Regions from separate parts of the Homo sapiens genome. Here regions 1, 2 and 3 are each reported to be linked to region 4. The links are microRNA targets in miRTarBase. Many come from high-throughput screens and were not tested one by one. Region 4 holds a microRNA gene; each other region holds the end of a gene's coding sequence.
Evidence for each region. Region 4 holds the annotated microRNA hsa-miR-6771-5p (CUCGGGAGGGCAUGGGCCAGGC, at 2,713-2,734, opposite strand). A microRNA usually pairs through its seed, bases 2 to 8, with sites in the 3' UTR of a target mRNA and lowers its output. Matches are read on the target gene's strand: a 7mer-m8 pairs with bases 2 to 8, a 7mer-A1 pairs with bases 2 to 7 and ends in A, and an 8mer does both.

Region 1 (7,116 bases), not on the chromosome of region 4:
TCACAAGTTGATGTCTGAATCATTGGAAGGTGCCTTTTCCCACTGTTATTATTTTTAATTATGGCATGCTATCCTTAATTTTTTAAATTAATAGACCTTCTAGTTTGAGACATCATTCAAAAAGTAGACAAAGCCAGGCATGGTAGGGCATGTGCCTATAGTCCCAGCTACTAAGGAGGCTGAGGCAGGAGGATCGCTTGAGCCTGGGAGCTCAACACTGCAGTGGCCTATGATCACACCATGCACTCCATCCTGGGCAACAGAGCCAGACCATGTCTCTGAAGATGAATAAATGAATAAAACAAAATAAAACATTTCTAAAAATAAAACAAAATCAAAGAGTAGACAGGAAGTCCTGAATTCCATCCACCTTAGATCTGATACCACATACAAAATCAAGCTAGGCTGTGCTCGTGTTTCCCAGTGGTAAAGCAGCTCATGCAGTTCTAAGGCTACCAAGTTACTTATGGGATAGGATTCTCCCAGCCTCCAAGACAAATGACAGAGCTTCCTATCTACTGTTTCCCAGGCTCTGATGTTCAGGTGGCCTGGATTGCTGGGTAAAACAGACTGTTTTAATAATCAGTGGGCTTTCTTAGACTCCGACTTAGAGCCTGAATTTAAATTCCTAATCTAATTTAAATACTACCAATAAGTAGCATTTACACACATTTGCTTTTAAGCCCATACACTAATTCTGATGTGCACTGAAAGCATGATATGCTTAGTTACTTCTGATTTTGAAAATTAATTTGAAGTTTAAAGTATTTTTATTAGTTTTTGAAACTAATATTAGACAATAACCAGCAAATGATATGATTCCATTCCATTATACACAAAACCAACCAACTACACCAAAAAAGACAAAAACAAAACCAACAAACATAGCCCTTTCTTGTTTAACTGCATTTTGTTCAATGTTTTAAGCTCTAGAAGGGGAATCTTTGAGTTAATCAGGTAGGACCCTCATTTTGCAAATGAGAGACATGAGGCACAAGTAGGTCAATGACTTATTGAGGTACTTGGAGAGCGAGGCAGTGTCCTCTGCCCATCGCAGCTGGCCAGGCCTTGCAGGAGGAGACACACCCAAAAGAAATGTAGAGGCCAGTTCTACCACATTCATTTCACGCCCTGGGGCTCGCACCCTTAAAAAGCATTCATTGCAGAACAGAGAAGTACATTTTGAACAGGAGTAGAGTAGTTAAACATGTACCAATGTGCACATTAAAAAGCAAAATAAAATGCAGCATTGTCAGAGTCCTCATGGAAACTAGAACTCTCTTTAACCAAAACTACTTTTTAGTCATTCAGTATCACATATCTTTTATGTTGCTTACGGTAAACGTCAGGTAAATCATGATATTTATGCTTTAATTTTATTTACCAAAAATATTTTTTTCCTTATGGGATTTAAAAGCACATATTCTTAGCTTGTGCACAATAGCTCATGCCTGTAATCCCAGAACTTTGGGAGACAGAGCTGGGAGGATCACTTGAACCCAGGAGTTCAAGATAGCCTGGGCAACATAGGGAAACCCCATATCTACACAAAATTTTTAAAATAAATTAGCTGGGTGTGGTGGCATGCACCTGTAGTGCCAGCTACTCGAGAGACTAAAGTGGAAGAATCACTGGAGCCCAGGAATTCAAGGCTGCACCGAGTCATGATCTTGCCACTGTACTCCAGCCTGGGTGACAGAGCGAGACTCCGTCTCAAAAAAAAAAAAAAAAAAAAAAAAAAGCAGCTAGGCGTGGTGGCTCATGCTGGTTATCCCAGCACTTTGGGAGGCCGAGGCTAGTGGATTGCTTGAGCTCAGATGTTCAAGACAAGCCTGGGCAACATGGTGAAACCCCATCTCTACAAAAAAAAAAAAAAAAATTAGCTGGGCGCCTGTAATCCCAGCTACTTGGGAGGCTGAGGCAGGAGGATCACTTAAGCCCAGGAAGTGGAGGCTGCAGTGATCCAAAGTTGTGCCACTGCACTCCAGCGTGGGTGACAGAGCCAGACCTTGTCTCAAAAAAAAAAAAAAAAAAAAAAAAAAAAAAGAAAAGAAAAGAAAAAAAGCATATGTTCTTAGAATACATAAAAATAATTTGCCAGGCATTTTTTTCTCCTACAAATATTATTTTTACTAATAACAAAAGCCCAGATCACATTCTTCTGAAATCAAAGTTTCCATGATAAAAGCCTTGACATTCCAAGTTTTTGTCTTTTCAGTGTCAGCTAACACAGTTTGAATTTTTTGTTTTTTTTTCCTACACTTGTATCATAGTTTAAGGTCATACTAAATGTTCACAGAAAATTAATGACTTATGCATCAAACATCTCAATTTAATCAGGCTTCTATTAGAAAGCAATCTCTTGCATTACATATAAAAATGAGAGCAGAGATACTAGTTAGAGAGCAGCCTATTGCACAAGGCAGAAAGTGATTTTGCTTGTCGTATAGCAGAAGTTCTATTAGGCAATGTCATAACTCCAAATAATACCAAATACCCCTAATACTTAAAATTTTCAAACTCAAAGAGCTGTTTATGTTAATAGGTCCAACAGGGTGAGTATATTTATTGTAATTCAGCTTTTTTTTTTTTTGCAATATTTTATCACTAATTTCAGCGAGCAGAAGACCTTCAGAATCAAGTACACATCTGATCCACATATAACTAAATACCCAAAGATCAGCCAAGTGGGTAGAAAGAGTGACAACAACAAAAACTTGTTTATCCTGCCGGGCATGGTGGTGCAAGCTTGTAGTCCCAGCAATTCAGGAGGCTGAGGAAGGAGGATCGCTTGGGCCCAGGAGTTTGAAGTTGCAATGAGCTACAATTGCACCACTGCACTCCAGCCTGGGTGACAGATTGAGACCCTGTCTCAAAAAGAAAAACCTTGTTTTTCCCACTGCCCTCAGTGAAACACACATCTGATGGGTTGTTTCAACAATAGGTTCTGCTAAACCATTTTAAAAAAAAAAATTCATAACCCGAAACACCTTGATAAGAACAAAGGTTCCCAGTCTTAGAAACAGTAGAATACCTTTAGGACTTCATTTTTAGATACATTTTCTTTTCTTTCTTTTTTTTTTTTGAGACAGAGTCTTGCTCTGTTGCCCAGGCTGGAGTGCAGTGGCACAATCTTGCTCATTGCAACCTCCACCTCCTGCATTCAAGCGACTCTCTTGCCTTAACCTCCTGAGTAGCTGGGACTATAGGCATGTGCCACCATGCCCGGCTAATTTTTATATTTTTTAGTAGAGATCGGGTTTCGCTATGTTGGCCAGGCTGGTCTCGAACTCCTGGCCTCAGGTGATCCACCTGCCTCAGCTTCCCAAAGTGCTGGGATTACAGGCTTGAGCCACTGTGCTGGCCTAGGTATATTTTCCAACACAGGGTAATGAAATGTCCCAGCCTTCTCTTGCCAGAGATGAGACTCTGGGGAAGGTAACGAGAGAGTCCATATGTGGGAGGAGTGGCTTAAAAACGTTCTATGTCATTTTCAAAGGCACTCTGGGCAACCAGGTGCAAAAGAATTTGAAGTGGCCCCTATTCAGATTCACCCACACTGGGTGAAGCAAGAGGTTCTTGTTATTAGTAATTGTCAGCTAAGCATGGTGGTTCACGCCTATAAATCTCAGGGTTTTGGGAGGCTGAAGTGGGAGGACTGCTTGAGCCCAGGTGTTTGAGACCAGCCTGGGCAACATAGTGAAGGCTCCATTTGTACAAGAACTAAAAAATAAAAATATTTTAAAAATTTGCAGGGTGTGATGGTGCACGCCTGTAGTCCCAGACAGGAGGCTGAGACAGGAGGATCTCTCAAGCGCAAGAGTTTGAGGCTTCAGTGAGCTATGATTGTGACACTGTACTCTAGCCCCGGTAACATAGAGACCCAGTATCTTAAAAAAAAAAAAAAAAAAAAAAAGTAATTGCAAAACATTTAATCAGCTTAAGACCTTGTGGGTCTTTTAAAAGCATGATCACAGACACAAACACAGATCCTACATTTGCCCTATCTGAGCTGCTGGAATCTCTTGGTCCTCCTGAGGAATAGTGGGGGGTTGGGGGGAGAGTGAATCTTAAGTCTGGGTGTCCTGACAGCATCCCTTCTGCTATCCACCTCTGCCCCTTGGTCCTCCAAGCGGCCCATGTGAAAAATGGCCAATTCCTTTCCCCTGGTCACCCCTGTTCTCACTTCTGGGGTAAAAAAGAATTAAAAAAAAAATCCTTGTCAGTTTTCAGCCAAAGTCTCTGGAATTTATTGCAAATTACCTTTAGAAAGTTAAATGTGGCCTGGCGAGGTGGCTCACGCCTGTAATCCCAGCACTTTGGGAGGCTGACGTGGGCAGATCACCTGAGTTCAGGAGTTCAAGACCAGCCTGGCCAACATAGTGAAACCCCATCTCTACCAAAAATACAAAAATTAGCCGGGCATGGTGGCAATCGCCTGTAATCCCAGCTACTCGGGAGGCTGAGGCAGGAGAACTGCTTGAACCCAGGAGGCAGAGGTTGCAGTGAGCCCAGATCACGCCACTGCACTCCAGTCCGGGCAACAAGAGTAAAATTCCATCTCAAAAAAAAAAAAAAAAAAGAAAAAGAAAAGAAAGTTAAATGCATCTGTTTTTACAGCCTAACTTACCCAAGAATGGGACAGAGCTCTCTCTGGACCACAGGCAGGATTTGGCAGCACTGCTCAGGCAGATGTCATCCTGGGACCAAGGACCAAGCATTTTCTTACTTGTTGATCAAAAGAATTAAAGGCCACTTAACATTCTGTCATTTACACTTGTGTGGCTACTCAAGAATATAGATTTTATTTTGCAGTGAAATTATAGAAAAAAATAAAGAATATTGATTTTAGACTGAGCATAGTAGCTTATGCCTGTAGTCCCAGTACTTTGGGAGGCCTAGGTGGGAGGACCACTTGAGGCCAGGAGTTTGAGACCAGCCTGGGCAACATAGCCCAACTCTGTCTCTACAAAAAATTAGTTGAGTGCCGTGATGCACACCTTTAGTCCCAGCTACTTGGGAGGGTGAGGTGGGAGGAGAGCTTGAGCCCAGGAGTTCAAGGCTGTGGTTTGCTGATTGCGCCCCTGCACTCCAGCCTGGGCGACACCACAAGATCCTATCTCTAAAGAAAAATAAAAATAAATAAATAAATTAACTGCCTTAAAAACATTAGCCAGGTGCGGTGGCACACACCTGTAGTTCCAGCTACTCAGGAGGCTGAAGTAGGAGGATAGTTTGAGCCCGAGATTTGGAGGCTGCAGTGAGCCACAATCACACCATTGCACTCCAGCCTGGGTGACAGAGGGAGACCCTGTCTCAAAAAAGAAAAAAGTGGGGGGGGGGGAAGACTATCAACTTCAGAAGTAGATGAAATATATATTTAGTAATCTAAGTATCTACATAAAGATACTATGTTTGACTCATTGGCAGGTATGAGTTCATGGCCCAGCGTTCTTTATTAAAATAACAGCTTTCATAGTACACGCTGTGGTTACGTCATTTTTCTTTCAGAGTATTATTACCTTTTAAAAGCTTCTTAAATCCCAAGTTAAAGCTGTTACATTCTAACCCAGTCTCAGAGCTGATTGGCTCAAAACCTCTGTGGGCCAGTAATGCCACATTACCCCGGAGGGGCGGGCAGCGCGGGGGTCAGGGAGCTGCCAAAGCCAGCCCTCCTACTGGCCAGCACGCACATTCCAGGGGATAAATAGGATTAAGTGCTCTAAAGAGGATTCCCAGCCCTCCTGCAAAGGAGGTTCAAACACTCTGGTCTAGTTCTGAACAAAAATAAGCCCCAGAGAAGGAGAAAGTGCCTGTTTAAACACCAGGTGGCCCTACCCCAAGCCTCTGCTCTTCCTCTTACCCCCATCTCCGGGTGGCTGGGGAGAGCCCTTTTCCGCAGGCAAGTGTGCGCACTGGATCCAAGTCCGTGAGAGTAGGTTCAACCCACCCTCTTTGGTTTCCTAAATAGGGTCAGCCCCTGAGCGGCAGTGGGAGGTCATGACCTCAAATCTCTTCTAGCTGCTCTTGGGGACGAATGGATAAACTCTGCTAGGAAGGGCTGTAGCGCGTCTTAGAGAAAGCCCTTTGTATGAACTGCTCTCGGGACACTCTCCTAAATTTAGGCCCTGAAAGATTAAGGTAATAAAAGCTGCTGACATTTGATTGCAATTTTTCTTGTCCGGGAAACAGACCAACCACATAGAACCAAACAGCGTCCCTCTCCAAACTTCACTCCACCCCACCCACCTTTTCAAACTGTCCCACGCAGAAAGGGGGCGACGCTGGCAGGGGTGGGCACCGAACTCGGACTCCCTGTAAAGACGCCCCAACAGCACATGTGTTAACTCATTAACTCGGAGGGATCTAGGGTCACTGTGACGGTTTTCTATTAATAGGGAATAAAGCTCCTGCAGACGTTAGCGGTAATGCCCTGACGGCCGGCGCAAAGTTAACTCCTCCCGGGCCAGCAAGAGGAAACCGTGTCCTGCCCAGGCAGATGTGCACTGGAAACGCGCGTGTACCCATGCACACACGGGGTTTTAGGACCACTCCCCTTGCACAGGCCAGACCCCACACCCATCCCGAGTCTTTTCTCAGGGGAGGGAGCGGCAGCAGCAGGCGGCCGTCGGGTGTCCGTCAGCTCAGCTTCGCCACGCACACGGCTAGGGCCACAGCCGCCAGCAGCACGGCGCCGAAAAGGATGGCGGCCAGGGCCTTCCTGGGGTCGCAACCCCCCCCGCGCTCCTGCAAGGACACGACCGAGGAGGGGCCGGCGCTGACCGTGGACAGGAGCTCGGCGCCCGCCGCCTGCCGGGCTTGCACGGTCCAGCGGGGCACGTTGACCTTCATCTCCATGTTGTCGATCATCTCGCCCACCTGAAGGACCTCGCGCTCCAGCTCCCGCAGGTCCGCGACGTCGAAGTCGCCCTCCGCCTCGAGCCGCAGGCTGCGGGTGCTCAGCGCGCGCGCCGCCACGCCGGAGGAGGCGCCAGCCACACCTGTGCGCACCAGCGGCCGCCGCGGCGCGTGCAGCGGGAACGCGGCGCCCAGCTCCAGCGCGCGTCGCATGTCCGCTTCCAGCAGGTCCAGGCAGCCCGAGAAGGCCACCCAGAG
Region 2 (7,099 bases), not on the chromosome of region 4:
AGAATGAATAAAATCTAGTATATGATAACATAAGGTGATTAAAAATTTTTAAAAATAATTATATGTGATACTAAGTTTAGCATAAAAACAGATTTTAGACAGAATCAGTTTATATATCATGAAATCTTTGTACTTAGCCATGGACAACAATATTTTCCATCTTAGTCCATTTTCTGTTGCTTGTAACAGAATACCTAAAACTCAAGTCATTTATAAAGAAACAAAAATGTATTTCTTACAGTTCTGGAGGCTGAGAAGTCCAAGGTTGATGAGACACATCTGATGAGGGCCTTCTTGCTGATAGGGACTCTGATGGGGTGCCTGTTGGCAGAGGGCACCACAGGTCGAGGGAGCTGAGAGTGTTAGCTCAAGTCTCTTTTCCTCTTTTTTTTTTTCTTTTTTTGTGGGGGACAGGGTCTCACTCTCATCTAAGCTGGAGTGCAGCGGCATCATCTTGGCTCACTGCACCCTCTGCCTCCTGGGCTCAAGTGATATCCCCACTTTAGCCTCCCAAGAAGCTGGGACCACAGGTATGCACCACCATGCCCTGCTAATTTTTGTATTTTTTGTGCAGATGGGATTTTGCCATGTTGCCCAGGCTAGTTTCAAACTCCTGAGCTCAAGAGATCCCCCAACCCGTTCCTCGGCCTCCCACAATGGTGGGATTACAGGTGTGAACCACCGTACCTGGCTCTCTCATCCTTTTTTTTTCTTGAAATGGAGTCTTGCTCTTGTCGTTCAGGCTGGAGTGCAGTGGTGTGATCTCAGCTCACTGCAACCTCCACCTCCGGGGTTCAAGCAATTCTTTTCCCTCAGCCTCCTGAGTAGCTGGTACTGCAGGCAGGTGCCACCACATCCAGCTAATTTTTGTATTTTTATTAGAGATGGGGTTTCACCATGTTGGTCAGGCTGGTCTCAAACTCCTGACTTCATGTGACCTGCCCACCTCAGCCTCCCAAAGTGCTGGGATTACAGGTGTGAGGCACTGCACCTGGCCAGCCTCTCTTCCTCTTCTGAAACAGCCACCAGTCCCACTCCCATAGTAACACATTAATCCATTTCATGAGGGTACAGCCCTCATGACTGAATCAGCTCTTAAAGGCCCCACATTTCAATATTGGCGGACTGGGGATTAAGTCTCAAGAGTTTTGGAGGGGACAAAACATTCAAATCATAGCAATTGCTTTCTCATAACATTGATTCCTGCAATAATGCTCTTATGGTAATGTGAATGTCAGTTGTGTTTACAATAAAGTATATGGATAAATGTGTTAAGGTTTCATTAATAACAATTAATAAAATGCTGTGATGGTGTTTATGTTACACTAGATAAGAATTGCTATGTAGAAGTCTCTTGTGTTTGGTTAGTGCCAGTCTGAACACCTTACAGAGCTCCAGTAAAGTTTGACCCAGGAAAATATTTTAGACAGAATCTGCTTATGCATTGTGAAATCTGTGTATTTACCCATAGACAACTGTGGTGGCAAACCTCAGCGATCTCAGTTCACTGCAACCTCTGCCTCCCGAGTTCAATCGATTCTCCTGCCTCAGCCTCCTGAGCAACTGGGACGTAGGCGCGCACCACCACGCCCGGCTAATTTTTGTATTTTTAGTAGAGACGGGGTTTCACCATGTTGGTCAGGCTGGTCTCAAACGCCTGAACTCGTGATCCGCCCGCCTTGGCCTCCCAAAGTGCTGGGATTACAGGCGTGAGCCACTGCGCCCAGCCATTTCCTGGGGATTAAAATATCTTACATCATGATTTTTTCCCTAAATATTTCTGGTGAAATATTTTTAAAGGAGTGAAATGTATATTTTTGCCACTTGGGATTTATTCTGTCATTCAGTCTAAAAACCTTCTTCAGCTGTGAGTGTAATTAATCTCAGCTATAGGTCCTACCAGGCTCAGTCTGATTTGTTATTTACGTTCCTTTTTCTTTTTTTTTGGAGATGGAGTCTCACTCTGTCACCCAGGCTGGAGTGCAGTGGCGCCATCTCAGCTCACTGCAACCTCCGCCTCCCAGGTTCAAGCAATTCTCCTGCCTCAGCCTCCCAAGTAGCTGGGATTACAGGCATGTGCCAACACGTCCAGCTAATTTTTGTATTTTTAGTAGAGATGGGGTTTCACCATGTTGGCCAGGCTGGTCTTGAACTCCCGACCTCAAGTGATGAAGCACAAAAATACAGTTAGATAGAATGAATAAAATCTAGTATAGGATAACATAAGGTGATTAAAAATTTTTAAAAATAATTATATGTGATACTAAGTTTAGCATAAAAACAGATTTTAGACAGAATCAGTTTATATATCATGAAATCTTTGTACCTCGGCCTCCCAAAGTGCTGGGATTACAGGCATGAGCCACCGTGCCCAGCCTTACTGTTGCTTTTCACAAACTTTAGAACTGAAGAAAATTTTAGGCCAGCTGTGGTGGCTCACACCTGTAATCCCAGCACTTTAGGAGGCCAGTGTGGGTGGATTACTTGAGCCAGGAGTTTGAGACCATCTTGGGCAACATGTTGAAATCACATCTCCACAAAAATTAGCTGGGGGTGGTAGTGTGCATCTGTAGTCCCAGCCATTCGAGAGGCTGATATGGTAGGATCGCTTGAGCCCAGAGAGGTCAAGGCTGCAGTAAGCCATGATCGTGATACTGCACTCCAGCCTGAGTGACAGAGAGAGACCCTGTCTAAAAAAAAGAAAGAAAAAATTTTAGAAGCAAACATATTAATGCTGGAATCAATCTCTTGCCCCACAAGTATTTTTTATTTGTGGAGCAATCACCTTCAAACTCTTGTTCTTCAAGTCTGATCTGGATCTTTGGGGCTGAGCTCTGTTATGAAGTCATGTTCTAAGAAACAGTAATAATCTCACTTTCTTATTGACCAAAAAAGACATATATATTTGAGACTGGGCACAATGACTCAGGCCTGTAATTCCAGCCCTTTGGGAGGCTGAGGCGAGAAGATCATTTGAGCTCAGGAGTTTGAGACCAGCCTGGGCAACATAGTGAGACTTGGCCTCTCAAACAAACAAACAAAAAAAGACATAAATATTAAAAAAAAAAAAAAAAACAAAAAAAAAAAAACAGATTAGGAGAAGAATGAGTGATAAACAACATTACTTAGAAACAAATATATGGGGCCAGGCATGGTGGCTCACGCCTGTAATCCCTGCACTTTGGGATACAGAGGCAGATGGATTACCTCAAAAAAAAAAAGAAAGAAAGAAAAGAAAAGAAATATATCATAAGTACTTGTTAAAAGAATGAAAATAGGCTGGGCACAGTGGCTCATGCCTGTAATCCCAGCACTCTGGGAGGCCGAGGTGGATGAATCACCTGAGGTCAGGAGTTTGAAACCAGCCTGGCCAACATGGTGAAACCCTGTCTCTACCAAAAATACACAAATTAGCTGGGTGTGGAGGTGCACGCCTGTAATCCTAGCTACTCAGGAGGCTGAGGCAAGATAATCGCTTCAACCTGGGAGGCGAAGGTTTTGGTGAGCCGAGATAGGCCACTGCACTCCAGCCTGGGTGACACAGCAAGACTTCCGTCTCAAAAAAAAAAGAATGAAAATAAATGAGCTAGGTACCTACCATCACAAGAAGTTAGAAAAAGAATAGCAAACTGGGTGCAGTGACCGACACCTATAATCCCAGCAATTTGGGAAGCTGAGATGGGAGGATCTCTTGAGCCCAGGAGTCCGAGACCAGCCTGGGCAACATAGTGAGACCACATCTCAAAAACAAGAAAAATTTTTATTTTTTAATTTTTAGATGGGGGTTTCACTCTTGTTGCCCAGGCTGGAGTGCAATGGTGCGATCTCGGCTCCCTGCAACCTCTGTCTCCCGGGTTGAAGCAATTCTCCTGCATCAGCCTCCCAAGTAGCTGGGATTACAGGCATGTGCCACCATGACTGGCTAATTTTGTATTTTTAGTAGAGACACGGTTTCTCCATGTTGGTCAGGTTGGTCTCAAACTTTCGACCTCAGGTGATCTGCCCACTTCAGCCTCCCGAAGGGTTGGCATTACAGGCATGAGCCACCATGCCCAGCCAAGAAAAAAAAATTTTTTAGAGATAGGGTCTTGCTATGTTGTGTAGGCTGGATTTGAATTCTTGGCCTGAAGCACCCTGCTTGAACTCGGCCTAATCTCAGTTTTGAATAGGTAGGTGTCTCCAGAGGAAGGTTTCTTTGGTATATCTTCAAAGGTCTATTGGATAAATGCTAAAATATTCTTTATAAAGAAACACTACTCACAAAAGATTTAAAGTAATAAACTTATTTTAATAGTGCAAAATGTAATCTGCTTTCCAACCAATGAAAGAAAAACTTTCAAAAAATTTATGAAACTAGTCAATACCTTGAACAAAGAAAAACACAAATAACTAAGTAAATATTACAATTGTGTACTCCAAACCCAAAAAAGCAGAGACCGTCATTACAAGCCAAATCTTTTTTAGAGTTGGTTGTTGCAGGTTACTAAAATGCGTAAAACAAAATCTCTACTTTTCAGACTTACAGAAAAGAAATAACTCCAATAAGAAAGCTAACTTAAGTTTCATGGGAAACAGATCATATTGATGACTTTAAAATGTTTTTCAAGGAGTTTACGGAACAGAACATCTATATCTTGATTTTTATGGCAAATGAGGTTTGTCTTGACTTTTGAAGCTTATGTGTCTTTTGACGTATAGCTCAGAAGTAAAAACCAATCAAGAGGGACAATAACATTCAGGGGATCCACAGGACTTTAACCTGATCCAAAAATATAAAGCAAAATTTTGAGACAAATTAGCTTAAAAATGCAAATGTATTTTGGTTTATAATTAAATATAAAACAAAAATTATCACAATTAGGATTTGAATGAAGTTTGAGTAAATTTTTTTGTCTACTTCATACATAATATTGGTCATTTAATAATATGTATGACAAGGGTATGGCATCAGAAAACAATACTTACAGCAAGTCTATTATTACTGCTAGAAATTGATGAAACTAGTGTTTTGGATGTGACATTGTTTGACGTGTCACTATTTAATAAAAGAAAATAGAAAATTTTGCTGTAAAACATTCTTCAGAAAATTGGGAACTGCCTAGACAGATGAGTATCTATATACCTCAATGAATTTCTATGTACATCTCCTTACTACATCACAAACACAAAAACAACATTAATATATTTACATATATGTACTAGACAAAAATGAATTAACTTTCCCTAGAAAAACTATACTTATTAAGAAAACATTGCTGGGTGTGGTGGCTCACACCTGTAATCCCAGCACTTTGAAGCCGAGGCAGGCGGATCACGAGGTCAGGAGATCGAGACCATCCTGGCTAACATCGTGAAACCCCATTTCTACTAAAAAGACAAAAAATTAGCCCGGCATGGTGGTGGGCACCTGTAGTCCCAGCTACTCGGGAGGCTGAGGCAGGAGAATGGCGTGAACCCAGGAGGCGGAGCTTGCAGTGAGCTGAGATCATGCCACTGCACTCCAGCCTGGGCGACAGAGCAAGACTCCGTCTCAAAAAAAAAGAAAAAGAAAACATAATAGACACCATAGAATAAAAAGCAAGGCCTTCAAAAAAAGATGGCAACCATTTCAATAGCTGAGTGCTATTGCTTTCTCTCTTTTTGTTTTTTTGAGACAGGGTCTTGCTCTGTTGCCTAGGCTGGAGTGCAGTGGAATGGTCTCGGCTTACTGCAACCTCTGCCTCCTGGGCTCAAGTGATCCTCCTGCCTTAAGCTCCTAAGTAGCTGGGACCACAGGCGCAAGCCACCATGACTGGCTAACTTTCGTATTTTTTGTAGAGGTGGGGTTTTGCCATGTTGCCCAGGCTGGTCTTGAATTCCTGGACTCAGGCTATTCACCCATTTTGGCCTCCCAAACTGCTGGTATTACAGGTGTGAGCCACCGCACCCAGCCCTACTTTCTCTTAATAGCATTTTAGTAACGGAGAAAAAGGATAATAGTTTGTAGACAGATACATTTCTACTCCAGAAATATCTGCTAGGCAGAAGCCAGGCAACCTAAAAAATCATAGCTCTATCTAGTTATGGGAAAATGGCTAATGTTCTTGTCAGTGATAACACTTCTTATACTTAAGTTAATCCTTAGGGCTTGTACTAAAGCAGAAAGCACTAGTTTAGTTAGGAGACATTTTTCCTAAGTGTCCTATTACTTAAACCTTTGGTACAAAGATGAGTAAGTTGATAGTAGGCTATGAGGCCTACCATCCAGACTTCATCACCATCATTCTGCAGAGATATAAAAAACATACAGATTAACTATAACATCATCAGAAGGAATTTTACTCAGCTTGTAATGACGTAAAAACAAAGGCTGAACAGCAATGGGACCCTGAAATAATATCAAGTACATTCTGCTTGGTTGTTCCAATGGTGGTCCAAGGGTCTAGTGGTAGAAATGGCAGTCCTGAAACAGATCTTGGTAAATTTGCTTGACTACATTCTTCAGGTAGTTGTTCTCCAGTGGCACTTTAGATAGAATGGTAGCAATATCATCTTGGCTGGAAAGAACAAAGGTTAATCAATTTTCTTTTTTGCGACGGAGTCTCGCTCTGTCGCCCAGGCTGGAGTGCAGTGGCGCAATCCGCTCACTGCAAGCTCCACCTCCCGGGTTCATGCCATTCTCCTGCCTCAGCCTCCCGAGTAGCTGGGACTACAGGCGCCTGCCACCACGCCCGGCTAATTTTTGTATTTTTAGTAGAGATGGGGTTTCACTGTGTTACTCAGGATGGTCTCGATCTCCTGGCCTTGTGATCCACCCACCTCGGCCTCCCAAAGTGCTGGGATTACAGGCGTGAGCCACCGCGCCCAGCCAGGTTAATCAATTTTTTAAAAAATCTTACACTTGTCTCTAATTCAGTGGAATTTATGTTCTTGGTCTCTCAGTTTCCTAGGAAGCACAAATGAGCATTTCTGGAAATAACCAGATATCCAGTTTGAAATGGGATTCCAAAACAGGGCCTAAGAACCAATTCTATATGTAATTGTGAAGTATCTTAACCTAGCTACTTTTGTTGGTCATAAAAAATCTTAGTCTTGGTGTTTGCTGACAAATATAAGGTGA
Region 3 (7,120 bases), not on the chromosome of region 4:
TTACATTGTTTTAATGTGTAGCATAGGTTTTTACTTGACAGCTCTTTGCAGAACCATATCATTTAGTTAACTAATAAATCTGGAAACTTAAAAAAAATTATGAGCTACTTTAAATAATTTTAGAGAGTACTTGCAACTTTAAAATGTTTAGTGAAATAACTTGTATTTGTATTGTACCTTTGTTTGAAATTGTAAAAATCTGTTTAGACATCAGACAAGTGGAAGTGGTTCACACTGCTACACTACATAAATATAAGCTAAATTGCATTTTAAAATTATACTTTTTATTTCATTATTTTGGTCTGAATAAGATAGTTTCAAATACATGATTTTATGGGTTATTATATTATGTAAACACTTAAACTGGCCAAGTGTGCAGTGAACTCTCTGTACACTTCAGCTGAAGGTAAGACCTTAAAGGAAAATGTCCTTAATACTCAAATTTTATTCTTATTGAAAAAGCAAAGAATATATTTGATTTCCTACTAGTGATAAAATAGTCAATGTTAAGTTTCATTAACAGTGTGAAGATTGTCATTTTTAACCTGCCACTGAAATTGAGCCTAATTGAGCTTTTTTTTTTTTTTTTTAATTAGTTTGCAGGTCGAAGTAAGAAGGAAACCAAATATTCTCTTAAGGCTGTCGAAGACATGTTGGAAACATTGCAGATCACCCAGTCTTAAGGTTTCAAAAACTCTTTGACATTAGATTTCACAACTGCACAATTGAACTTATTGGCCTGTAACTTATTTACTAAATGCTCAGTGCTATTTATATACTACAGTAATTTTCTGTTAAGAAGGCAGTTGTAAAGAATGTGTTTATATAAACCTAAAAATGCCTTTTACTGCTAAGTGGGGAGATGGGGGAAATCCATGGAAGAGAGATTTAAGACTTATTGATTGTACATCAGTCTCTTCATATCACATATACATGTATATATATAAAACTCTAATGTAGTATAACCTTGTTAAATAAACCATGATGATTTATTAAACTTGCATATGAAGATTCTAACTTCATTTTGTTATACTCACAGTGGATATATTGTTTAAGAACTCAGTTTCTAGTTAACTCCTTACTGGTGATAGCAAAGTCACAGCATATGTAGCTGACCGAAGCAGATTATTTTGACTTTGTTTATATTGTCGAATTGGATTTTGCTGTACATTCCAGTGGGCTATTTGAATTGTTTTATCTGCTGTAATATCCTTCTGATGAATCTTGCTTAAAATATGTCATTCTCCAAAGTTCAGCAATATTTCTTTGTAAAATTTTTGTTTTGATATAGGACATAATTGAGATTTTTACATATAAAATGCCTTAAGATAAATATGTGTTACGACACTTTAACTTTTATGCAAGTTATATTTATTGAATCCTTTAATAGTAAATTACATGAAAGAATATTAAAGAATCATAAAGAGTAGGGATTAAAGGGGTTGTAGTTATTTTTAATTTTGAAAAAAATAAGAAAATTAAAACTATCCTTAGAAACAAAAATGTTAAAATTTTCCTATTCTATCATTACCTTAGTTAGAATTTTTTATTTTTCTCTTTTCATAATAAACAACCATTATGCTACCTTCAACAGTATTTGACATGTTTCAACAAAATAGAAGAGACTTGAAAGTTAAATTTCATTTAGACACAAATCAGTTTTTAAAATAGCAACTGTTCACCGCAAATATTTATGGTATTTGTTTATAATAAATATATTTAAATTTATTTTTACTAAAAATATACAGAGGCATCTACAGACTTGTCATTGCTGCTTTGGACAAGTGGGGATTGTGGAGGAATTGACAATCTAGAAGTGTTTAGAAAGAAAAGTATTGTCAATATCAGCTTCTTTTAACCTTTTGAATAGTTCTGCTAATAAATTATTCTCCATATCTAGTCTAATCTTTCATATTACAGTCATTTTCGTTTTATTCTGCCACGAGTAATAGGCAGCTGATTAATATATTCTGTGAAAGAACTCTTCTCATCTGAAGGTAATTCTCTACTAATCTTTATTACCACAAAGATCCCGTCTTTGTACACATGAAATTAGTAACTGCATTTTCAACATGATGAACCATTTGAAATTTACATTTTCTGTAAAGAAAATAGTGCCTGCACGTTGTTTCACTACCTTTTCCCCTTCAAACCTCCTCCCCGTCAGTCACTGGATTAGTGTTTACTCTAGCAATTATATTTGTGTAATAAGTAATTCAGTGCCTCTTATAGCTGTCTGCCTTAGTTTCACTTTTTTTTTTTTTTTTTTGAGACAGTCTCGTTCTGTCACCCAGGCTGGAGTGCAGTGACGTGATCGCAGCTCACTGCAACCTCCTCCCGGGTTCAAGCGATTCTTGTGCCTCAGCCTCTGAGTAGCTGGGACTACAGGCATGTGCCACCATGCCTGGCTAATTTTGTATTTTTAGTAGAGATGGGGTTTCACCATGTTGGCCAGGCTGGTCTGAAACTCCTGGCCTCAAGTGATCTACCCGCCTCAGCCTCCCGAAATGCTGGGATTACAGGCATGAGCCACTGAGCCTGGCCAGTATCACTTTATTTTTTCAAAATTTTAATAACTTCTTTCCAAGATTTTATATTTGTTAAGCACATTGCCAATCCTTAGTTATTTATAAACTTCAACTTAAATGTACTGATAATCCCATTACAGCAGGCAGTTGCCTACAGCTATTACCTTTATTTCTTCTTTAGCAGTACCTTAGTTTGATCTGATAGTGGCAAGGATCCCTCTTCCTCAAAGAGATTAGGACCTTACCCCAACTCCAGAGGTTGCACCTTCATTGATCTGAAACAGAAGTGGTAGTTTAATTCTGTATAGTCTGATTAGTACGAGGCAGAACTTTTTGCAGTGAAGGAAATCAACCATCCATTCTGTCTCTCTATTGTGGTAGCTACTAACCATATGTGATATTGAGTACTTGATATGTGACTACTGCAATTGAGAAATTGAATGAAATGAACAGAACCCTACTGAGAAGGGCTTTCCTTTCAAATTAAAAAATCAGAGCTTTGTGTGGTAACAGTCATTGCCTCTTTCTCCTCTTTCTGGCCAACAGCATGCCTAAAGGTGCAGCTGCCATCAAACAACCATGAAACAGCAAATGTGAGAATGAAAGTTACATTTCAGAGATAGAACTGAAGGAGGATTAAGGGGATCCTGGGTCCCTGATATGGCATTGTTGAACACCCAAATCAAGATGAGCAATTGCCAAACTCCCCAATTATTAAATGAGAAAAAATAAACTCCAGATTGTTTAAGACACTGTTTGGTTTCCTGTTACTTTAGCCATGTATGTTTCTGACTAATATATCTGCTTATCTACTCTTCAACATTTTTTAAGTGTAAAACTCTTATTTTAGACATGTCAGGGATGCTATTTCAGAATCTAATCATTTAAAGCAAGGAGATAATTCCATATAACGAAAGAAGTAATGTCTTAGTGCAGCTCAGCTCCTAGCATTCTAAGCCAACAGAGGTGAAAAGGGGACATATTTACACAGCTTAACCATAAAAATAATACTGATTTGGGGGCACAAGAGGATGTAGAGAAAAATATAAAGGGAAGACCAGTATTTTAGTATGCTGCAAGCATATACTTCAACTTTTTATTGACAAATATTTCAATTAATCTTTTTGTCTTATATACTGTAGCCCACATATCATCAAAGTAACTTCATTTTAATTCATTTCATAGAACCATAGGATTTTAGACAGGACTTTGGAGATGATTTTGTTGTACTTCATTTTAAGATGAGGATATCTGAGGTTCAGATAAATTAACCTCTTGTGTTACAGAGCATGGACCAGACCCAGGATGTCAGGGGTTTCCAAGTCAGCATTTTTTCTGGTATCCTCTGCTGCATCTGGCTATCTTGTGATGTTCTAATTTTAGAGTGACAAAAATGAGAACCAGTTATATGCAAGGATCATAGCTTGTTAGCAGATCAGGGATTATAATTCAGATGTTCTGATTTGTAAAACAATTTTTAATTAAATAAAAAGGTAAATTATATTTTAATTTAAATTGTGTTTAAATTATTTAAGATGTTATTTCATTTACAGTAAATATGAGAACGATTTCAAAATATTTAGAATATAATATAATGCCATTTTGCTCCCTCCCCCTCTGCCCCCATCGTTAAAACTCTTGCTGTTTTCCATTTATTGGCTCTTAACATGGCCTTTGAGGGTCTATATAGTATCAGAATCAAGGAGAGAATTTAGATTTCTTTAATTGTAAATGATGTCCTTCCACTTTCCCACACTTTGAATTCAGGTACACTTAAAGTCCATGAAGTTGTTATACTTCCTTCTTCCACAAACATTCAGCATCTACAAAATAATATATGATGAAAGACTAAATGCGTTCCTCTTAAGATTAGGAACAAGATAAGGATATGCACACTCACCACTCCTATTCAGTGTAGTACTTGATATCCAGTGCAATAATATAAGAAAAGGGGATAAAAGGCACAGAGATTGGAAATGAAAAAATTAACTTTATATTTGCATTTAACATTATTTTCTACATACAAAGTTCTAAGAAATCTCCAAGAACTTACAAGAACTAGTGAATTTAGTAAGATCACAGAATACAAGATCAACCACACAAAAATCAAATTGTATTTCTATATGCTAATACCATTTACAATTTCAAAATGTAATACTAAGTATAAATCCAACAAAACACCTACAGGACCTTGATGAAGAGTCAAACTCTAAAATATTGAAGAGATTTATTTTGAGCCAAATATGAGTGACTAATGGGCTGTGACACAGCCCTCAAGAGATCCTGAGAACATGTGCCTAAGGTGATTGGGTTACAACTTGGCTTTATACATTCTAGAGAGACGTAAGACATCAATCAATACAGGTAACATGTACATTGATTTAGCTTAGGAGAGTGGGACAACTGGAAGTGGGGACTTCCAGGTCATAGACAAATCCAAAGATTTTCTGATTGGGAGTCGGTTATTATTGATAGATACTGGTGTCTGGGATATGATAAGGGGTTGTGGAAACCAAGGTTTTATGCAGATGAATCTTCCAGGTAGCAGTCTTCAGAGAGATAATAGATTGTAAATGTCTAGACTTAAAGAGTCTGAAACATAACCATTTATATGGATTGGAAGACAATATATTAACTAAGTTGCCCCCAAGTTGATTTATGGGTTTAATACAAGTCCTATAAAAATCCCAGAAGGATTCTTTGTTGAATGATTCTGATTCTAAAGAATCGGAATAAAGCTCATTCTAAAATACATTAAAAAGCAAAGGAACTAGAATATCCTAAGCAATTTGAAAACAATGTAGTTGGAGGAATCACACTACCAGATATTAAGACACATAAGTACAGTAATCGGGACTGTGATATTGGTACTGATTGTGTGGTTTTGGTAGTGATAGACACATAGCTCAGTGATAGACGCAGAATAGAGTACAGAAATAGACCTACACAAGTATGAAAAACTAACGTCTGACAAAGGTACATAAGCAATTCAATAGATGAATTGTGTTAGAAAAATTGAATTTCGAACAAAGGGTGTTGGAACAATTGAATAGTCATAGCTAAGAAAGAAAAACCTCAACCTCAACCTTCTACCTTATAAAAACTTTTACTCCCTAGGCATGGGGGGCTCGTGCCTATAATTTCAGCTAGTTGGCAGGCTGAGGTGGGAGAACAGCTTGAGGCCAAGAGTTTGAAACTAGGGTGGGCAACATAGTGAGAACCTCTCTCTAAAATTTTAAGAAATTAGCTGAGCATGGTGGCATGTACTTTCAGTCCCAGCTACTTGGGAGGCTGAGGCAGAAGGATCACTTGAGACCAGGAGTTTGAGGCTGTGGTGAGCTGTCATCACACCACTGCACTCCCGCCTAGGCAAGAGAGCAAAACCTTGTCTCTAAAACAAAAATTAACTCAAAATGGGTCATGTTCTTACTGTAACATATAAAACTGAAACTTAGAAGCAAACAGGAAATCTTGAGCAAGGGTTAGGCCAACTGGCATTAAAATTCCTTAAAAAAACATTGAATTTTGTAAAAAATAAAAACATTTTGTAGAAGACCCTGTTAAAGAGGATGAAAAGGCAAGCCATAAACGGAAAATATTTGCAAGCACATGTTCAACAGAAAACTTATGTCCAGAATATATAAAGAACTTGCAAAATTTATTAGGAAGAAATAATCCAATTAGAAAATGGGCAAAAGACTTGAACAGACACTTCATCAAAGAAGCTGTACAGATAATAAGCACATGAAAAGATGTTCAGCATCATTATTAATAGGGAAGTGCAAATTATAACAAGATACCATTGAACACCTATTAGAATAGCTGGTAATAACACATGCTGAGATATGCAGAGCCACTTTCAGACATTTTGTCTGAAATTGGAAATTTTACATTTCCACCACAGGTTTAGCTACCTGGGAGGTGGAGGTTGCAGTGAGCTGAGATCACGCCACTATACTCCAGCCTGGGTGACAGAACGAGGCTGTCTCAAAAAAAAAAAAAAAAAAAAAGTGAAACTAAGGCAGACAGCTGTAAGAGTTACTGAATTACTTATTACACAGGTTTAGCTACACTGGAAATCAGTTTGTCATACACTTTTATATTACAACTGTCATGCACCTTTTATTGGGAGAGTTTATCACTTTAATTATATTTTCAGGTGATTATCTGTCTCTCTTAGTAGATTCTTAAGTTGCATGAGGGCAGAGACCCTATATGTTTTTGTCCATGTTTACCTTTTTAGTTTCTAGCATGATGCTTGCATATGGTATGTATTTGAATGAATTAAAAATACTGTGCACATTTAGGTATAGTTTATTTAACAAACCTTACTTCCAGAAGTAGCTTAATTCCACTTCTTCACTTAGTTCCCTACTAAAAGAAACTGCAATCAGGAAGTCACTTCAAAAATCCAATCTGCAGGCCAGGCATGGTGGCTCAAGCCTGTAATCTCAGCACTTTGGGAGGCCAAGGTGGGCGGATTGCCTGAGGTCACGAGTTTGAGACCAGCCTGGCCAACATGGTGAAACCCTGTCTCTACTAAAAATACAAAAATTAGCCAGGCCTGGTGGCCAATGCCTGTAATCCCAGCT
Region 4 (7,120 bases):
AAAAAAAAATTAGCCAGGCGTGGTGGTGCATGCCTGTAGTCCCAGCTACTCAGGAGGCTGAGGCATGAGAATCACTTGAGCCTGGCAGGTCGAGGCTGCAGTGAGCAGTGATGGCACCACTGCACTCCAGCCTTCATGACAGAATGAGACTCCATCTCACAAAAACAAACAAACAAAACGTAAAAGTTTAATGTGCACATGATTCACCTCAGATCCTGTGAAAAGCAGCTTCTGGGTGAGGCTGGGCATTCCACAGTCCTCCTGAGCTACCAGGTGAGTGGAGGCTGCTAGCCTTGCCAGTGAGGATGGAGCCATCTCCTCCTCCTGAGCCCCCATCTGAGCTCCAGAGCCCCAGTATATCGCCCAGTGTGCACTGTCAGTCTCCCCACTGGCCTGTCACTCTGGGGGCACAGGATCCTGGCTGCCGTGGCCACCACTCACCCCCACCTTTACCATGGGGCGCTTGTGTTTGCTGGCTGGATGCTAAAATTCAGCCACGCCTCCCCATCCCAATTCCAGCAGGGCACTGAACACAGGACACCCCTGGGGTGTAATAGGCAGGGGAGGGGCCTGGCTTTGCCCATTGTAGGCCAGCGGGCTCACCTTGGCGATCTGGTCGAACTTGCCAAAGAGCTCATTCAGCACCACCACCAGCTCCTTGGGAGAACAGTCGCTGGCCAGCTGCGTGAAGCCCACGATGTCCGCATAGAGGATGCTGGGGATGGGGCAGGGTGGGAGGGAGTGTCAGAGCCAGGCTCCTAGACAGCAGCAGCAGGAGCACGCAGGACTGTCTGGAGCCCCAGGAGCCTGCCAGGCCTGAGCCCATTCACCCCCGTCCTTCCTCAGCCTCCATAGGGATGGGAGAGTCGCGCCCAGCCATAGAGACAGATTAAAGTTCCAGGGGCTTCACGTTAAAGCAGAAGGGAGCAAAATTCAGAGCCTACAGGAGCCCTCGGCCCCACCCCAGGCCCTATCACTGCAGACAGCCGAAGGGCACTCCTGCAGGCAGCCCGGAGCCTTCCCCTTTCCCATCCAATGTTCACCACAGCACAGACTTCAGAACTCCCTGGTGAGAGGCAGCTCCATGCTCCCTCAAGCCAACCTCCACACCCAGCACTTTACAGGCATCGAGTCCTCACACAGCCCTTGCCGAACTCCCGTTCTACAGATGCACAAACTGAGGCTCCAGGACATTGAGACTTGCTGGGAAGCCAAGAGCTGGCATCTGCACCAGTTCTCCCTGCTCCAAAGTCCTTAAGCTCATGGACCATCCACAGCCCAGAGAAAAGGCAGCGGGCCAGCCTTGGATGTAATGCTGGCGCTGCAGGCAGAGGACCCAGGGGGTCTCCTGGGACCCACATCTACACTCAACGGCACCCAGCACCCACATCGACACTTGACAAACTCAGGTCAGTGCATTCAAGTAAAATTTTGTGGTTCCCTGCAAATCAGCCAAAGACAGGTGTCAGAACCGGGGCACTCTTGGGCACCAAGGCCGGGGGGCTTTACCTCATTCTGGGGGTCCTGTGCTCCCTTGAGAACCATCTGAAAGGACCCCTTCCTTCACAAAAGCTATGTTTGCTCACACAGTTTTACAGTTTTGGGGGTGTGCTAGATCTTTCAATACCAATCTAAATTCTCTAATTTAAGAGCCCTGATCTGATCCTGCCCACAAGTGGGGGTTCTGAGACCCAGGGAGGGCCCCAGATTGACCTGGAACCATGGGGCCCTCTCCCAATCCCTATATGGGCAGGGGTCTGAGCCTCCAGATAGGGCGGGGAGGCCGCCTGGGGGCCGGTGGAACGGTGGGCCCAGTCCCCGGGATATGCTAATCACACGTCTCACCGCCCACCTGACATTCTGGTGCCTCTTGACGTAGAGGCTGTGGAAGTTGTTGTCAGGCATGCAGCGACGGTCACCATGCTCCTTGAGCCGTTCGATGATGGCCAGCTTCATGCCCATGGAGATGTGGGCCGGAAGCACTGACAGCAGCAGGTTCTCCTGGGTGTGGGTGGGCAGACCAGCAGAGGGACCAGCAAAGCGACCGGCGGAGGGACCAGCGGGGGACAGGCAGGGTAGCATCAGGTCCCAGACCTGGCCTCCTTGGCCCCCATCCTCCCTGCCTGCCTGCCCTGCCCACAATGTCCCCATCTCTGCTCTTGTCCTCCACCAACCCAACTGAGCATCTACCTCCCATGTACCCAGCAGCCCCCGGGACTCAGGGTGACTGAGAAAGGGCTCTTTCAGCTGGGGAGGCTAAGCTGATGGGTGAGCAGCCTGGAGCCACTACGGCCTTCTCTGCCGCCACCTGGGGACTGCGTGCCCAGGACTGAAACCACACAGAGGAAGGCAGAGTCAAGGGTCAGCAGGCTATGGTTACCCTGCTGGAGCCCAGGACTCACCGAGGTGAGACCTGCATGGGTGTCTGGCCATGCACCTCATGCACATGGCAGCATGAGTGTCTCATGTCCAACAGAAAGAGGAAGAGGACAGGGGTGTACAGGGTGAGGAGTGGGGGCCGGGTCCCACCTGCTGGCGCTTCTCGATGCGCAGCTTCCGGCGGATCTGGATGCACTTCACAGTGTAGGTGAAGAGGTCCCGGGATGCATCCTGCATTTGGTGCTTGTGGAAGGCGCCTGTCAGGTTCCCACACAGGAAGATGACTGCGTTGGCCAGCAGCTGCGGGTAGACAGGGGTTTGGCTCATTATGTGGCCTGGCCCATGCCCTCCCGAGGCACCAGACCCCTAGGCGGACTAGTGATGGCACCTCTTCCCATTCCCTGACCTTCAACCCACTGAGAATGGCACTCTTCCTGGGGCAGACAGGGAAACTGAGGCCCAGACAGGAGCTAGTCTCCTAGTGAGTCACTAGGACTGCAAGACCAGGACACCCAGGGAGGCAGAAGAGACCACCTCACAGAGCCCAGGGCCCGAGGGGCATGCGTGCTAAGGGCAGTCCCAGAGGGCACAGCGCCCAGCTGGCTGTGTGGAGGGCCAGCCTCTGCCTGGAGAGGACACCAGGCCTGGTCAGAGGGAAAACACTTCTCTAAACACCCAATAATTATGAACAGAAGATTCACTCATTCAACACAAAGACACAAGGCAGTGCCCTGGGGTACTCCCCCAAGCCCCGCCAGGACAGGGCCTTCGAGGGGAAACTTCGGCAATGGGACTCACCCCACGACAGTGTCCCTGAACCGGGAGGCAAGGCCTGAGGTCACGACCCTGAGGGCTGAGCCACAGGGGAGCCCTAGGCCAGCAAAGCAAAGGCCAGAGGGCAGGGCCACGCCTGGAGCCCAGCTTCCGAGCAGACGTGGAGAGGGCCCGGCCTTGGAGCGGGCTGTCTGCAAACACGGCTCCGGGGCCTTCGGGTCTGATTCACCCAGAGGGGGCCCCCCCATCTGCCCTTAGACCCAGACCACAAAACCTCCCCCAGAGGCCTTAGCCCATCCCTCACCTGCAGCCCCACCCGGACACTGGGTGTCGTGAAGCCTCCCATCAAAGAACCGAGCACCAGGAGGTGGGAGGCAGTGGAGACGGCCCCAACGGCGACAGCGCCCCGCATGCTGAAGGGCAGTAGTGTGTACACCACGAAGACAATGAACAGGAAGAAGGGCACCTGTGGATGCAGCCTGGTGAGCCCGGTGCCCCAAGATGCTGCCCCAGGCCGTACAGCCCCCGGAACCCTGCACCACAGCAGCCCACCCAGTGCGTATCCTTAGGTTGGCTCCCTCGCCACCCCCTGCGTGGGCAGACATACAAGGGAACAAGAAAAGCCATAATGTGTTTCTAGGGTGGGCCCGGCCACAAGGTTCATGGTTTCCTGTGCTGATCCACTGCCTGTGGCCACCCTAGGTGGGAGGCTCCATGCCCCGCGTGATCCAGGGAGCCCCCACCTGGTGCCCCTGCCACGTGGTTCTCGCTCAGCAGAAATGATTACCGGGAGGCTGAGGCACCCTCTCACCAGCTGCCTCCAGCAATGCGGCCCCACCCGCCCTCCCTCCACCCCCAGAGCTGCCCCACCATCCCCACCGGCTGGTCCTGCGTCCACCCCTCTGGGAGTGCTGCCCTCTCCCTCCCCTTCAGTCCACATGGTTTCCTTGGGCCTCACCCCACCCTGCCCCAGCCACAGGAGCTGTCATAGGACCCAGGCCCACTGGTCAGAGTGTGCTACCGCTTGGTGACAGCCTCTCTGGGACTGGGCCCATGACCACAGCCAGGCCAGTGTGGCTCAAGCCTGCAGGTCGAGCTGGTTGAGAAAGGGCCCTCTCTCTCAACTGGGGTGGGCAGCCTGGAGCCGCTGTGAACTTCTCTGCCCCCACCTGGGGACAGCGTGCCCGGGGCCGAAGCTGTCCAGAGGCCCCAGTTCCAGTTACCCACTGGAGCCCAGCACTGACCCCTTGGCCTTTCCTGACACAGGAACCAGTTTGTGCCTTTTTGCCTCTTTGAGCTGAAGTTCTGTCATCTCCAACCAAACTGGAGCCACCCAAAAGTGCTGCAGCCCAGCGTCCGAGTGGATGCTCTCCCCACCTCAGCCCTGTCAATGCAGAGAACTCACAGGGACAAAACCAGCCTGGGGCCATCCTAGACACACAGCCAAGCGTGGGGCACGAAGGGCCTGTGGCATGCCCACCAACCACGGGGATGGGAGCTGCTGAAGGCGCAGCTGGCAGGGAGTCCAGAGTTCCTGTTACCTGCTCCCACGCACAGGCCGCCTTTGTCCATGCGTCGAACACCAGCACATAGCCCAGCGCCACCAAGCAGGCCCAGGTGAGCAGCGCCAAGGCCCTGAGCCAGCGCCGCAGGAGACACTCGACGTACATCAGCACAGAGAGGGCCGCAAACACCGCCAGCACCAGGAACGCCATGCCCAGAATGGCCTGGTGTCTGGAGGGGTCCTGGGTGGAGCAAACAGACAGGAATGCCTCGGCTTTCCCCAGTGCAGAGCCACCTCCTCCAGAAAGCCTGCCGGGCCGGCTGCCTCACTTACAGCTTCCTCCACGTGAAGGGTGTGGATGCACCCTCCCACACCTGGTTCCCACTCACCTTCTGGCCTTTGTCACCTCTGCCAAGGCTGCCTCAACCACCCCCTTCCCATCATCTCGGGAACCAGAGCATCACCCACAGCCCCGCCCATGATGCCATCACTCTCCATCTGCCTCTGCCTCCTCTCTGGGTTCCCACGGTGCTCTGTGCACAGCCGCAGGTGATACCACAAGCACAGGGCAGGACTCATTCACAGGCAGAGCCTTGTAAAGCCGCCCAAAGAGGACACTGCGCCTGGCCCTCAGTGAGTGAGCAGAGGCTGGTGAGGGATACCAGGAAAAGTCATCCCACAGGGGAGGAGCTGAGGCAATGGCACAGAGGTGGGACAGGACGGGCACAGCATCCGGGAGGTCCGTGGGGGCAGAGGCCTGATCTGGGGGCTGGCACACAGTAGCAAGCATCCTGTGGTTGGTAGCCACATGGATCCAGGCTGCACTGGCAGCTGCTAGGTCCTGGCCACTTCACTCACATAAACACCCTGGAGTTTCTGAGTGTTCTTCTAGAACTCAGCTAATCAAATTTACATTCACTAAAAAGAAAATGGGCTGGGCATGGTGGCTCACGCCTATAATCCCAGCACTTTGGGAGGCCGAGGCAGGTGGATCAGCTGAGGTCAGGAATTTGAGACCAGCCTGGCCAACATGGTGAAACCCTGTCTTTACTAAAAATACAAAAATTAGCCAGGCGTGGTGGCATGGGCCTGTAATCCCAGCTACTCGGGAGGCTGAGGCAGGAGAATCACTTGAACCTAGGAGGTGGAGGCTGCAGCGAGCCAAGTTGGTGCCATTGCACTCCAGCCTGGGCAATAAGAGCAAAACTCTTTTTTTTGAAAAATGCAGTTCCTCAGTCACATTACCCACTTTTTAAATGCTCAATAGCTAAACACAGCTAGTGGCTGTACCAAGGCAAGTGCCTGGGCCGGAAATGACATAGGTGGTGCCAGCCTGGAGAGCTGTGTTAAAAAGGATTCTGAGGCCGGGCACAGTGGTTCACACCTGTAATCCCAACACTTTGGGAGGCCAAGGCAGGAGGATTACTTGAGGCCAGGAGTTCAAGACCAGCCTGGGCAACATAGCGAGGCCATGTCTCTACAAAAACAAACAAACAAAAAAAAAACAAAAGGAGGATTCTGAGAATGTAGACAGGCTCAGTGTGGAATGTAGGGATTGATTAATGATGTCTGCATGGGTACAGGAAGTGAGGGCAGTGATACACAGGCCATCCCTGACCCAGGTCTTCAGTAGAATCGAATTTCATCATGGAGAAAAATGAGAGTAGTTTATCTGGACAAGTTAATGTAATGTCTGAAACCACTCCAGACTTCAAAACTGAATTAAAGTTAGAGAGGCTGGGCATGGTCGTGCATGCTTGTACTCCCAGCTACTCAGGAGGATAAGCCAGGATGATTACTTGAACCCAGGAGTTCAAGGCCAACCTGGGCAACAAAACAAGGCCCAGTCTCAAAAAAAATTTTTTTAAATTAGAAACTTGTCTTCTACCAGTCTAAATGTGCTGTAAAAGACAGAGCATTGGCCGGGCATGGTGGCTCACGTCTATAATCCCAGCACTTTGGGGGGCCGAAGCAGGTGGATCACCTGAGGTTGGGAGTTCGAGACCAGCCTGGCCAACATGGTGAAAGCCCATCTCTACTAAAAATACAAAAATTAGCTGGGCATGGTGGCATGCACCTGTCATCCTAGCTACTCGGAAGGCTGAGGCAGGAGAATTGCTTGAGCCCAGGAGATGGAGGTTGCAGTGAGCCGAGATCATGCCACTGTACTCCAGCCTGGGTGACAGAGTGAGACTCTGTCTCAAAAAAACCCAAAAACAAAACAAAACAAACAAAAAAGCATAGCATTTTACAGAAGATAAGCATTTTACAGAAGAGGCTAAGAGAAGATAGCAGCTTGGCCAAGGTTGGGGCCGAGACGTGAAGCCCAGGGGCTGCCCTCACTCACCCCCTGGCTGAAGGCAATGATGATGAGGGCCACGCAGGCAGTGGCGGCCACCAGCAGGAGCGTGAGCAGCAGCGGCCCATGCTGGCTGGTGAGCTGGTACTTCTCGTAGAGCGCAT

Region 1: the mRNA of RGS9BP is a reported target of hsa-miR-6771-5p. The part of its 3' UTR that is shown has no 7-base or 8-base seed match.
Region 2: the mRNA of KNL1 is a reported target of hsa-miR-6771-5p. Seed matches in the 3' UTR shown: 7mer-m8 at 5,424-5,430.
Region 3: the mRNA of EMC2 is a reported target of hsa-miR-6771-5p. Seed matches in the 3' UTR shown: 8mer at 2,500-2,507.

What each region holds. Positions count from the first base shown.
Region 1 is chr19:32,676,495-32,683,610 of GRCh38, reverse strand. It overlaps RGS9BP (regulator of G protein signaling 9 binding protein), which reads right to left. Exons shown (of 1, transcript NM_207391.3): 1 at 5,311-7,116. The coding sequence ends at 6,640. Among named protein-coding and RNA genes, the nearest start is that of RGS9BP, 4.2 kb to the right of the region's middle. RefSeq lists an enhancer at 7,067-7,116.
Region 2 is chr15:40,661,511-40,668,609 of GRCh38, reverse strand. KNL1 (kinetochore scaffold 1) reads right to left here. Exons shown (of 26, transcript NM_144508.5): 26 at 4,268-6,536. The coding sequence ends at 6,422. Among named protein-coding and RNA genes, the nearest start is that of RAD51-AS1, 30 kb to the left of the region's middle.
Region 3 is chr8:108,485,916-108,493,035 of GRCh38, forward strand. EMC2 (ER membrane protein complex subunit 2) reads left to right here. Exons shown (of 11, transcript NM_014673.5): 11 at 597-3,281. The coding sequence ends at 683. Among named protein-coding and RNA genes, the nearest start is that of EMC2, 46 kb to the left of the region's middle.
Region 4 is chr16:50,288,235-50,295,354 of GRCh38, reverse strand. MIR6771 (microRNA 6771) reads right to left here and starts at 2,739; the gene lies at 2,680-2,739. It overlaps ADCY7 (adenylate cyclase 7), which reads right to left. Exons shown (of 26, transcript NM_001114.5): 2 at 7,005-7,120; 3 at 4,695-4,898; 4 at 3,458-3,619; 5 at 2,530-2,679; 6 at 1,853-2,001; 7 at 604-715.